4 separate regions of the Homo sapiens genome follow, and all the other regions are reported to be linked to region 2. Evidence: microRNA targets listed by miRTarBase, many of them from high-throughput screens and not tested one by one. Region 2 holds a microRNA gene; each other region holds the end of a gene's coding sequence.

The links. The annotated mature microRNA hsa-miR-7-1-3p reads CAACAAAUCACAGUCUGCCAUA and lies in region 2 at 1,738-1,759, shown strand. An mRNA with a match to its seed (bases 2 to 7 or 8) in the 3' UTR can be bound and repressed. Matches are read on the target gene's strand: a 7mer-m8 pairs with bases 2 to 8, a 7mer-A1 pairs with bases 2 to 7 and ends in A, and an 8mer does both.
Region 1: the mRNA of TBC1D1 is a reported target of hsa-miR-7-1-3p. The part of its 3' UTR that is shown has no 7-base or 8-base seed match.
Region 3: miRTarBase lists NLGN4X as a target of hsa-miR-7-1-3p. Seed matches in the 3' UTR shown: 7mer-m8 at 450-456.
Region 4: the mRNA of SPATA13 is a reported target of hsa-miR-7-1-3p. The part of its 3' UTR that is shown has no 7-base or 8-base seed match.

Annotation. Positions count from the first base shown.
Region 1 is chr4:38,136,648-38,139,832 of GRCh38, reverse strand. It overlaps TBC1D1 (TBC1 domain family member 1), which reads right to left. Exons shown (of 22, transcript NM_001396959.1): 22 at 660-2,698. The coding sequence ends at 2,498. Among named protein-coding and RNA genes, the nearest start is that of PTTG2, 180 kb to the right of the region's middle.
Region 2 is chr9:83,968,530-83,971,529 of GRCh38, reverse strand. MIR7-1 (microRNA 7-1) reads left to right here and starts at 1,673; the gene lies at 1,673-1,782. It overlaps HNRNPK (heterogeneous nuclear ribonucleoprotein K), which reads left to right. Exons shown (of 17, transcript NM_031263.4): 13 at 174-257; 14 at 618-633; 15 at 711-793; 16 at 1,199-1,368; 17 at 2,090-3,000. The coding sequence ends at 2,123.
Region 3 is chrX:5,890,057-5,893,232 of GRCh38, forward strand. NLGN4X (neuroligin 4 X-linked) reads right to left here. Exons shown (of 6, transcript NM_181332.3): 6 at 1-3,176. The coding sequence ends at 2,761. Among named protein-coding and RNA genes, the nearest start is that of LINC03070, 170 kb to the left of the region's middle.
Region 4 is chr13:24,302,112-24,305,296 of GRCh38, reverse strand. It overlaps SPATA13 (spermatogenesis associated 13), which reads right to left. Exons shown (of 13, transcript NM_001166271.3): 13 at 1-2,699. The coding sequence ends at 2,524. Among named protein-coding and RNA genes, the nearest start is that of C1QTNF9, 5.9 kb to the left of the region's middle.

The DNA.
Region 1 (3,185 bases), not on the chromosome of region 2:
CCAGGATCCCATGGCACTTGGAGCAACTCTTCTCCTGTTTACCAAACCAGACACACAAACCTCCAAATGGACATTGTTGTTCTATCTACAGGCCACCCCTGAGAGGGAGCCGAACCGAGTGTGCAAGCTGAAGAGAGTCCCATCCTGTTCCAGGTAGTAGTACACTTCTTGAGGCCTCATAATGTCTTAAGAGACATAAATGGCATCTAAAGATTGACACCACCAAGTGCACAAATGAGTGTTGGGGGAAATATAACCCAAAACATGGCTTAAAAATTTGGCTCTGAGAATCCTCACACAGTTGCCTCTCCGCTCCTTGCCTAGTCAGTCACAGGCTGAGACTGTCCAACCTACATCCACAGGCTCATGTCAACAGTCCTTTCTGCCCAACCCAATCTCGTAACAGGACTCACTGCCACATACAATGATGGAGCTGGTCTCATCAGTGCTAAACTCACACCCTGTGTAGAGGTGTTACAACTTACGTAATAAACACTCAGATAACAACACTGGATGCAGACACCAATATCTCAAATAATCTCACTGATGGTTGGGTCATGACCACACGTAGGCCACAGGTGTTCATAAGGCATTCCTTTACTCCTGGGCTGAAAAGCAAAAATCCAAAGTTAAAAAAAAAAAAAAAACCACCATAAAAATGTGAGCATGAATTATTTCTTGTTTTATTGCTTTCTTGTTTCTTTCTTGATGCAGAGTCAATGTTTTTGAGTAACAGTAATAAGATGCCCAAAATCCAACAGTAAACATTCAAATAGTAAGATCTGATGCAGAACAAAGTCCTCAAATGTTAACTCCTATAAGTTACATCTAGCGGAACCACGAGGGATAAAGGCTGAACTCATCATCTTGGTTTATGATGGAAACCGCTATCCTCTGACCCAGGGAACAGGAGGAAGTCTCGAATGCCAGCCACCTGTTTAGGCACTGGTGGCAGCACTGTGGTCTCCTCGTGAAATGGCCGGGGAGACTCACAGTGAGTCTAAGTATGGCAATCTCTCCTTTTACCCCAGGATTAAGAGATGCCCCCCGCAACTGAGAGAATCAAAAGAAACTCCTATGGAATAGAAGACGTGGTTACAGTGATAAAGATCAGAAATGATTGTGTTGTCAAGGAAGTGACCTGTGACTGCACAGAACCCCATCTTTGTGAGAAAGCAACCCACTCTTAAGTGCACATCAGAGAGGCTTTACACAGTGACTGGCTGCAAGCAGGACAACCGTGAGCAGCATTTTGCTTGTTGAAGGCACAGGTCCTCGTCATCCTGAGAGAGGAGAGTCACTGTGTGCGACCTCTGAAAAACTGTCAGCTGTCATAAATCTGACTGCAGTTTCAGCCTGATCTTTTTTTTTTGAAAGTCCCAGACTCTTGGGGCACCCCTGAATATCTTGATGTGCCTACTCCTTCTGCAAGAAGTCAGATTTCCAAGGGATGGAGACTCAAAGGAACATGATTGCATTACATCACACAACAGGCAAAAATAAATACATGACTCTATAGTATGGGTATGAAACTACCACAAAGAAATATCTCAGACCCCACAACTGCAGCTCACATGCTAGCAATACCTGGTAGGGTCTAAAAGGTGTCAGCTGTCCCATAAAGCATTTACCTACTATGACTTTGATCAACTGTACTTATGGGATAAGCAAAAATGTATGAAAACACTCTATTTTTTTTTTAAAGACAAACTTCCTTAAATACCAAAGAGAGAGATCCATTTCACTTGACAGTGATCAGGATATCCAAATTAAATAAATCATTTTATTTAATTTGATGATCTTCAAATTCAATAAAGTGATCTTAAACATTCAAATAGTAAAATCTGATGTAGAACAAAGTCCTCAAATGTTAACTCCTTTAAGTTACATCTAGTGGAACCACGAGGGATAAAGGCTGAACTCATCATCTTGGTTTATGATGGAAACCGCTATCCTCTGAGCCAGGGATCAATGACCCAAGATCACTGATCTTCCCAATGATCATCTTAGGTTTCCATAACAAGAATGGGCGAGAGCCAACTGCACCTTGCCAGGGACGCTGAGGGTGTAGTCGCCACACAAACCCTCTCGGAAGAACGATGGACCCACGCCTTTGCCTGAGGCATGATCTCGAGCTCTTCCAGCTTTTGAAATTCCACCGTATTGTGAATGCTCTTTACAAACACAGTGACACTCAAAAAGGAACCAACAAGAAAACATAAGTTGCATTTATTCACGTCCACGCCATCTAAAGCTACTGTGTACAGTAATCAGGACTGGAGAAGGGACGATTTAGTATCTAAAAACAACAAAAAAAACACTGGGACATGCCCCCTGAATTGCAAGTTGGAGTTCGTAAGAATCTACTTGCTGGCAAGCCGGTTTCCTCCCTGAGAAGCACACTTCCCGCTTCCTTCTCTCCTTCCAGCGTCTTCTGTCCCTCTCAGTTAAGGCCTGGACAGTGTGGGATGGTGTTGCAATCTCTCCTGCAGAGCTGTCAGTCGCCCGTGGGCTCGGGCTGCGTGCACTCAGGCTCCCGGTCGCTGGGCTCTGCGCTCCGCCGCCGCAGCTCCTCCACCGTCTGCAGCAGGGCCGACCGCTCCAGTTCTAAGGTAAGCATGGCCTGCTTCAGCTTGCTCTCACTGCTCAGGAGCTTCTCAATGGTGGCCTCAAGGCTTTGGATCCTACCATTTGCCACCTGGAGAATAAAAGAAGAAATGAGAATACAATTGCCAGTGCTAACACAGGTGGGATCCAGTGCCCACACGCTGTCCAGCCTTGGGAGCACTCTGGAGCCGAGTTTCAGCAGGGATGAGTCTACAGTTTATCATCAGTTCTGGCCACACAGGAAGGCAACTCGCACCCCTTGCAGGTCGGTGGCCAGGCCCTTAAAAGCACCCTGAGAGCCCCCAGCATTTTCTTCTCCTGCTATGGCTGCTGTGGAAGCCGATGCTGAGATGGTGGATCACAACACAGAGGGAACCCAAACCCCCAGGCACCACCACCAGAGGGACAGCTTGGATAGGGCCAAAGAATGCTTCAGCAACACAAAGCTGAAGTGGGCGTCAGTGACACAAAGACTTCCGTTGTGCCAAGCCTCGGAGACTTGTAAGTTTGTTACTGCAGCAGAGCCTGGCCTGTTTTGATGAGCACATATACTTAAACGCACAAATCGATTTCGGGCT
Region 2 (3,000 bases):
ATTTGCTGCTGGAGGATTACGACTTTATTGAGCTTTGTTCCCCTCGATTACAAAATTGCTGCCTATATATGTACCCTCTTTTGTTTTAATGTAACATGCAAATTAGGCATATTAAAAACAGCTCTATAACAAAATACAATGCGGGTTCATGTTAATGTTTTTATCTCTAACAGGTTGGTTTCAGTGCTGATGAAACTTGGGACTCTGCAATAGATACATGGAGCCCATCAGAATGGCAGATGGCTTATGAACCACAGGTTGAGTATCATAGTTGTTCGTGTGTATATCAGTGATAATTTAAGATGCTTACCTGCTCTCCAGTAAGTTTTTTATTCCCCTGAGGATACTTACTGAAAATAGGATACAGGAGGACTTTGGTTTCCTGAAGAGGGATTTTATGAGATTAAAATACTTGAATAGTGAAGCTGGGTGCAGTGGTGCTCACTCATAATCCCAACTACAAAAGAGTCTGAGGCAGGAGGATCACTTGAGCCCGAGAGTTTGAGACCAGCCTGGGCAACATAGCAAGACTCCATTTTATTAAATGAATTTTTTTAAAGTACCGGTAGTAATTACAACGGCAAAGTAATTTTCTATTTTTTTCTTTCTGTTTTTAGGGTGGCTCCGGATATGGTAAGTTCTCTCCTTTGTGAAGTCAAACATTAATTTCATACTTTTTAAATGAACTTACTGCTCATTATTTAAATCAGATTATTCCTATGCAGGGGGTCGTGGCTCATATGGTGATCTTGGTGGACCTATTATTACTACACAAGTAACTATTCCCAAAGATGTAAGTATCTTTAATACTACCAGGAACATTTTATCACTTTTATGATTATTCCTCCTTTCTGTATATTTTTTAATTCAGAAGGTTTTAACAAAAATACACATTTAGGATTGAGGTTATGTTAATGGGCTTTAGTGAGCTGGGTTTTCAGCTGTTTGAGTCTTGTCAAGTGATCAGTGCTATTAATAAAAGTAGTTAAGTAGGTTTTGAGCCCTTAACTAACTAAGGGAAACATTAGTAAGTGTGACATAAATACATTATAACTCAAACCTTGACAGGTTTAGGGAGCGTTAGATCATCAGTTAAGATTCTGAATGAATAAAATTAATAACTTCATGCTCCTTGAAAATACAGGTAGTAAATGTTAAAAGTATATCGTAAACACATACTTTTAAAAAATCTTTTCAGTTGGCTGGATCTATTATTGGCAAAGGTGGTCAGCGGATTAAACAAATCCGTCATGAGTCGGGAGCTTCGATCAAAATTGATGAGCCTTTAGAAGGATCCGAAGATCGGATCATTACCATTACAGGAACACAGGACCAGATACAGAATGCACAGTATTTGCTGCAGAACAGGTCAGTTTAAGTTTAGCTTTGTGTTAGCTTATACATACTAAAACCTTTAAAAAGCTTTTCTTCTCAATTGATTTTTTTCTTTTAGAAGCCATGGTGTCTCAACCTTTTGGGGACCTAACTTCTAAACATTCTAATAGTTTGCCTTAATTTTTCTTCTGCTTTCTTACTAAAAATGAAGACATTCAATACTAATCTTGCTGGAAGAAGCCTTAACCAAGCAAACTTCTCATTTCTCTGGTGAAAACTGCTGCCAAAACCACTTGTTAAAAATTGTACAGAGCCTGTAGAAAATATAGAAGATTCATTGGATGTTGGCCTAGTTCTGTGTGGAAGACTAGTGATTTTGTTGTTTTTAGATAACTAAATCGACAACAAATCACAGTCTGCCATATGGCACAGGCCATGCCTCTACAGGACAAATGATTGGTGCTGTAAAATGCAGCATTTCACACCTTACTAGCATTCTTTGTCTTTTCTACCAAATATTAACAACTTTCAATTCCGTTTTCTTAATTCTGTTCTACTAATGTCCGATTTACTACTCATCATTTTTCTTGACACTTAACATTGCTTTAATTTGTAATTGCTAATGGTTTTTGAACTCTTCTAATTGTAATGGACGTGTTTATCATTTTAATTTAGCATTGAAATTGTCTTGATGTTGATTAAGATGTTACGAGCAAAAATTCTAATTCGCACTTTTTTTTCTTTTCTTTTATAGTGTGAAGCAGTATGCAGATGTTGAAGGATTCTAATGCAAGATATTTTTTCTTTTTTATAGTGTGAAGCAGTATTCTGGAAAGTTTTTCTAAGACTAGTGAAGAACTGAAGGAGTCCTGCATCTTTTTTTTTTTATCTGCTTCTGTTTAAAAAGCCAACATTCCTCTGCTTCATAGGTGTTCTGCATTTGAGGTGTAGTGAAATCTTTGCTGTTCACCAGATGTAATGTTTTAGTTCCTTACAAACAGGGTTGGGGGGGGGAAGGGCGTGCAAAAACTAACATTGAAATTTTGAAACAGCAGCAGAGTGAGTGGATTTTATTTTTCGTTATTGTTGGTGGTTTAAAAAATTCCCCCCATGTAATTATTGTGAACACCTTGCTTTGTGGTCACTGTAACATTTGGGGGGTGGGACAGGGAGGAAAAGTAACAATAGTCCACATGTCCCTGGCATCTGTTCAGAGCAGTGTGCAGAATGTAATGCTCTTTTGTAAGAAACGTTTTATGATTTTTAAAATAAATTTAGTGAACCTATTTTTGGTGGTCATTTTTTTTTTAAGACAGTCATTTTAAAATGGTGGCTGAATTTCCCAACCCACCCCCAAACTAAACACTAAGTTTAATTTTCAGCTCCTCTGTTGGACATATAAGTGCATCTCTTGTTGGACATAGGCAAAATAACTTGGCAAACTTAGTTCTGGTGATTTCTTGATGGTTTGGAAGTCTATTGCTGGGAAGAAATTCCATCATACATATTCATGCTTATAATAAGCTGGGGATTTTTTGTTTGTTTTTGCAAATGCTTGCCCCTACTTTTCAACAATTTTCTATGTTAGTTGTGAAGAACTAAGGTGGGGAGCAGTACTACAAGTTGAGTAATGGTATGAGTATATACCAGAATTCTGATTGGCAG
Region 3 (3,176 bases), not on the chromosome of region 2:
ATATTTTATTATTAAAAATGCTGCTGAAAAGTTTATACATATGTGTCCGGCCATATATATCTTCTATCATTACTTAAGGCAAAATAAAAAACAAAACTGCAAAATAATAACCCAAGGAACCATTAAACCCTGCGTGCCTTTGAAGATCAAGAGTAAAAGCCTAGGACAGGATTTTTTTTTTTCTTACTTTTTTCTCATTTTTTTTCTTTTTTCTCTTTTTTATAGATAGCAAGTATATTTTTTCTCATAGAACTCTATGAAGATTCTATAACTTCTTTCCATGTAGAAATAAGATATCATTTAAGATGTACTAAAATCACTTTTGATCATAATCCCCTGTAAAAGCTAAAGTTATTCACTTAACAGGAACTCTGTTTTTCCTTATTCAAATGTCACAAGCCTGACGCGTTACTGTACATATTGCTAGCAGGAGACAACTGGAAATACTAAACAAATACTGGAATTCACATTACAGACAGACGAAACCAACATGGATGCCACACATAACTTCCTTTGTAGTTTCACAGAGAGCCTATTTGTGGTTGCTCAGGTGGGGTCATACATTGCTTGCAGAAATGGCCTGATCATAGCTCTATGAAACAATGAATTCGGAATGAAATCTTACCATGACACCTCTCTGTAGGAAAGAAATGTTGCTTCACGTGTGCTAAGTTGAGATAATAATATTTCACATATTTATATACAGAGAATCACTCTCAAATTTAACCCAAGATAAGCAATAGGATTTGGGGGTGACTTGTACGCATTTCTAAAAACACTTTTCTTTTTTCTAGAGGTCACTCTCAAACACTGATATATCACTATAGTTTGAGTGTAGGGATTCAGTAATCAAAGGTTGTTATTGCAAAAGAGCCAGGCAGCTGGACAATTTTTATGGGGAATGTCCACTTTAGCGGAGAGATTTAAGACTGGATTTCTAGAATAACCCACAATGGAGCCGAGGAACATGATCTTCAAATATCTTTGGCTACTGTTTCTTGGTAATGCAATAATTTTTCAAAAAAGTATCCATTGCTACTATGTTTCCTTCCACCTTATAACACTCAAAACTTTCCTGAAAAATGAGAAGAGAAATGAAAAAATGACAAGCTGTTGGAAAGACAAATCTCTGATCCCTAGGTCACCAATTTAAAATGGGTGAATAATTTCCATTCAATGTCTTCTCAGTGAAGTTATCCTAATTTCCCAGAAAACCCATGCAAAGCAGTTTTAATATTCTATCCTTTCTTCCCCCATTCTTCTATAATATTCACCGTTTGGTGACCGGATACACAAATCCACAAAAAGTGATGTTTTCAGACAATCATATGTTTGATCCCATAAATGATATAAAAGATTTTTAAAAACCTGCTTACTGATAAATAAGGGACCGAGTGCTTAAACAAAAAGGAAAGACACATGTCTTCCTTCAATCTGATTAGCTAAGCTGAGCAGGTACTTCATCGGCCAAACCCTCCCGCAGCTGCTAGGGAACACAGAGCCGTATTTACTCCAAGGGGCATAGCCCCACCAAAGGCAAGCTTTCTTCTTTTTTTGGCAGGGCCCTGAAATGGGAAGCAACTCTTCCTAAACATATTCAAAGGGCCAGAGCTACAGAACGGGACTTGTATTTTTGTTTCTCCCTACTGATTCTTTGTGTGTGCATGTCTCTAATTTAACAAGCTGTAAATACACTCCACTTTGGGGACCCATCTCTGTACTGCAATTTCATGAAGGCTAACACGTACAAGTCAAAAGTTTTTCAAAACAGTGGTCTCCTAAGAATGCTCTTGCATGCACCTGTGCAACCTGACGGGGGAAATAGGCCACACAGACCGTCTGGGTCTTCTGTGGGACATCACATCCTCCTACAAATGAGAATCTCATGTAAGAAAATCCCATGTCTTTGTTTACCACAAGTAATTAAGAAGAAAAGCCTCTTTTGTTGGGGAGGAAACAGAGGTGATATGACTAATGTGTGTGTGTGTGTGTATATATATATATATTTATATACGTACAGAGCACAATGAAAAGCACAACCTTGCTAAAAGCTCTTTCAAAGTGAAAACACCAATAAAAGCTTTTTTTCTTGTTTGTCTGTTTGTGGTTTTTGTTTAAACTCACAGCTATATACATTTTTCTTTTTTACAAAGTCTCTTAAATATAGTTCAGGCTGGCAAAACACCTCTTTGCACAGAACCGTACAGATTTCGCTGCACAGTCCATTCTTTTAATAATAAATTTCTACGTTTCCTTCTCTCTGGATTACAGCTCCATGTGCTGGGCAAAATCTCATTGACTCTTTCTTCACTTAAGGAGAGCCATCCATTGTGTGGCACAGAAAGAAATGTTTAAACTTCCATTGTAATTAAAAAATATCAAGTGTCCTTGGCTGAGTTTCAGAAGTGTCAGCTGCTTCCATGACGTTGGAAACACCCGGGGCCTTGAAATGGTGATGTCCTATCACACTAAACATCGATTGGAGTGGTAGAGATCTTAAAGCAGTTATTTTAACAGAAATGTGTACTTCTCACATTTCACAGGGTCAGAAGTTGATCTTGTAATACTGGAAAACACCAACGATAAGGGTCTGCCGGGATGGGATGACTGCCTTTTTGCATTTTTGTCTTAAGTCAGTGGGACAAAAACATTCCTGGTCTGGAGACTTTCTTTCTCTCTCTCTTTCCTTCTCTCTTTCCTTCCCTCTTCTATGTTGCTGAGCGGGTAGGGCAGAGGGATAGGAAGGGAAATAGGGCAAAGCTATACTCTAGTGGTGGAATGTCCGTGGGGTAAATTTGTACTGTTTTGTCCTCCACTGAAGGTGTTAAAAGTGTGCAAAGGCTGCATCCCCGTCAGTGTGTTTGGAATCATGGTGATGGTGTTTGGCGTCATAAGTGGGATGTCATCTGGCGACCGGCGCAGCGTGAGGGTGTAGTCTGGCGGGCAGGTGAGCCTCAGTGTGTCGTGTGCCTGCAGCGACTCACACTCGTGATCGTGTTCCAGCTGCTTCATCTGCAGAGACATGATCTCTTCGTTCTGGATGTGAGCGATATCATTTGTGGTGTTTCTCTGGGGACTGGGGCGCCTGTGAGTCTCATGGCGCCTCTTGTCCTTTTTGTAGTACAGCGCCGCAAAAGCTAAGATGTTGAGGAAGAGGAGCGACGCCCCGACGGCAA
Region 4 (3,185 bases), not on the chromosome of region 2:
CAAAAACACATCCTGGTATTCATAAGTCTCTGTTAGGAAGTCCGTGGAGGTAGGTGGGAGCCGGAAGTTAGGGCTCAGCTGGAAAATAAATTAGGACTGGCCACAAAATGCAAACCATTTCTTCATTACCCATGAATAAATATTAGGAAATGGAAGTCCTAAGAATGACTCTTAAACTGAATCCTCACTGAAAATGTAACACAAGCAAATGATTCTCTTTACTTCCTTAAACTAATTCTCTTATATTACATTTAAAACAATTTGTTCAAAATTGCTGTACATACAAACAACTCTAGCAGAGACCCCTACAGTTATTGCTAAGGTGTGCAGGAAAAGCATATTAAGTAGTTTCCAACATATATCATTGTATTTTGTTAGTAAAAAGGTCAGTTCTATAAACACATCTAAAGTTGGAATGTCTGTTCAAGAAGGAAACATACACACACACACCCCCACACATGCCACAGGACCTCTCCAGAAGCTCCTTCCTGCAGCAACTTCTGTCTCAGGACGTGCCGAGCGGCATGATGGTCCACAGAAGCAACTCGGGCTGTCAGCCATGGGGCACCTGAACCCTTAGCAGTGCTGCCTGTAAGCATGTGTGCCAAGGTGGCTCAGAATGGACATCAGGCGGTCACAGAATGTTCCAAGGGTTCACCTGAGGACCAAGGTTATGTTTTCTTGATGCATGATGTCACTCTCAGGAACGGCTCTGGATGTGGGGGGCTGCAGGGGAGAAGGGAGGTGCCACACACCTGCAGACTGAAGAATACACCTTTGTCTCTGACATCACAGACTTGTTTATTCTCAAACATGGGCCTGTTAGAAAAAAAAAAACTGCAGGGATAGCATACAAAAATGAGCTTCTCATATAGATATCCATTAACAGTTTAACACAGCATCTCCTGTCCAGGGCACTGAGCGGGTTGAAAGGGCACCTCTCTTGCAGAGCCTGCCTTCTCTAGACATAGTTAAAAGTTATATCATGAAAATGTACAACATAGACAAAGAAAAGGAGATGATTATCTGCAGGTGTCAGCCTAGGTGGCCTTTGTTAATAAAGACTGCTATCTCTAAGCCAAGATATTTTGTGAAGGTCTTTTTTTATAAAGAACAAGTCCTCAGAAGCCTGATGACATGCTCACGTGACATGGTTATGCCCTGTTTGGCTTTATATGTGATAAAGGCAGCTTCTGATTTCCAAGAAGCAGGACTGCTTTGGCTGTCTTTGTGACTTCATTGCTAAGGACGATGTCAGGAGCAGTGCGGCTCTTTGAGAGTGCCTTCTGACCAGTGCATTTTCATATTCACTGTATCATAAATATTACAGTAAATGAGCTTTTTATATTGCAAACAGTTGTTTGAATGTTTTTTGTTTTTGTTTTTGTTTTTGGAGACAGTCTCGCTGTATCTCCCAGGCTGGAGTGCAGTGGTGCGATCTCAGCTCACTGCAACCTCCGCTTCCCAGATTCAAAAGATTCTCCTACCTCAGCCTTCCCAGTAGCTGGGATTACAGGCATGCGCCACCATGCCCAGCTAATTTTTGTATTATTAGTAGAGACTGGGCTTTGCCATATTGGCCACGCTTGTCTCGAACTCCTGACCTCAGGTGATCCACCTGCCTTGGCCTCCCAAAGTGCTGGGATTACAGGCATGAGCCACAGCACCCAGCCTTGCATAGCAGTTTCTTAGGTTACAGCATGTGGGCAAGATGTGATTTCTGCTCGGAGTTACTGAAGGCGTGCAGGCAGGAGGGAATCCGACTCCGGGACAAAGCCAGTGTGCAGCAGGATTTCTCCCTCCTTGCCTGAAAAGCAGTGGATTCTTGAGGATGCGTAAGTTGCTCTGCACTGAGGACCCTGATGAAGGTGACAGATGCATCTTCTTTCTCTCCACTTTGCTTGCAGGAAGAGGAACCTTGCAGGATGACATTTGCACTACCAGTTAGCATCTGTGTGGACACAGACGATGCCAGGGAACACCGTGGTCAGCCCCACGGCAGCTGTAGGTCCCCCAGTATTACAGAAGAGAGTAAGAGCTCAATTTCTAAGTGTGACCAGACACGTGCAGCATTGTGTCAACCCCGTCTTGACGGCATCCTTGAAAATCAAATGCAGAAGTGATCCTCTAACCTCATCACTCCTTAGGAACTGCAAAGCCCTGGATGCTGTGTTTGGACCTGCAGCAGGCACTTGCTCATCATCAGCAGGGGTGGCTTCAGCTGCTGCCTAATCACTCGCTTTAGAGCATGGTACCGGGTCCCACATCTGGGCCATCTCATAGTGGGTCACGGGTGTTTCTGTGTAGGATAAAGCTTTGTGTCATGACCGTCTCCTCCCTTCCACAAAGGCAGCTGGGTCTCCAAAGACTGAAGGTGATTCCAAGACCTTCTCTCCTTCATTGATCCCTAAAAGGAAGTTTTTATCACTGGGTCCAAGAAACTTTCCCTGGATTGAAGCACACAAGAAACAAAGACAGTTCTTCTCTTGACACCCAGCTCCATGGAAGCACAGCCTCCTGTTTTCATTTCCGGAAGGGGGTGAGCCTGTTGAAGGTGTGCCAGAAGAGCGAGGACTTCCTCTTGGGTTCCGCCAGGCCAAAGACCTGCTGCTGGGGGACGCTTGTGGGCATAGTGATGTGGCGCTGGTGGATGGGGTGCAGGCCCTGGTGCGGTGGGGCCACAGGGCACCTGTTGTAGCCTGACTCGGGAGGGGAGAGAGATGGAACAGGGACTGAGGGTCGCTTGTTAACCAGAAAGGAAAAAAATAAAAATGCTGAGACTCCAAGTCCAAGTTCTCAGCTAATTCTTTTTTTTTTTTTTTTTTTTTTTTTTTTTTGAGACAGGGTCTTACTGTCACCCAGGCTGGAGTGCAGTGGTGTGATCTTGGATCACTGCAATCTCTACCTCCCAGGCTCAAGCGATCCTCCCACCTCAGCCTCCTAAGTAGCTGGACCTACAGGTGTGTGCCACCACGCCCAGCTAATTTTTATATTTTTTTGTAGAGAGCTAATTCTTAATTCACGTTAACCAAAAAGAAGGTCCAGTAGCTACACTTGTTATGTTCAGGTACTCCGTGTGGAGCGTGACACAGTCTCTCTCACTGAACTCTCCCAAAAAGCCTCCAAGGAGGGTATTATGACAACAACTTGACAGGGAAAGAAACTGAATGCCAGGACGTGCAGCG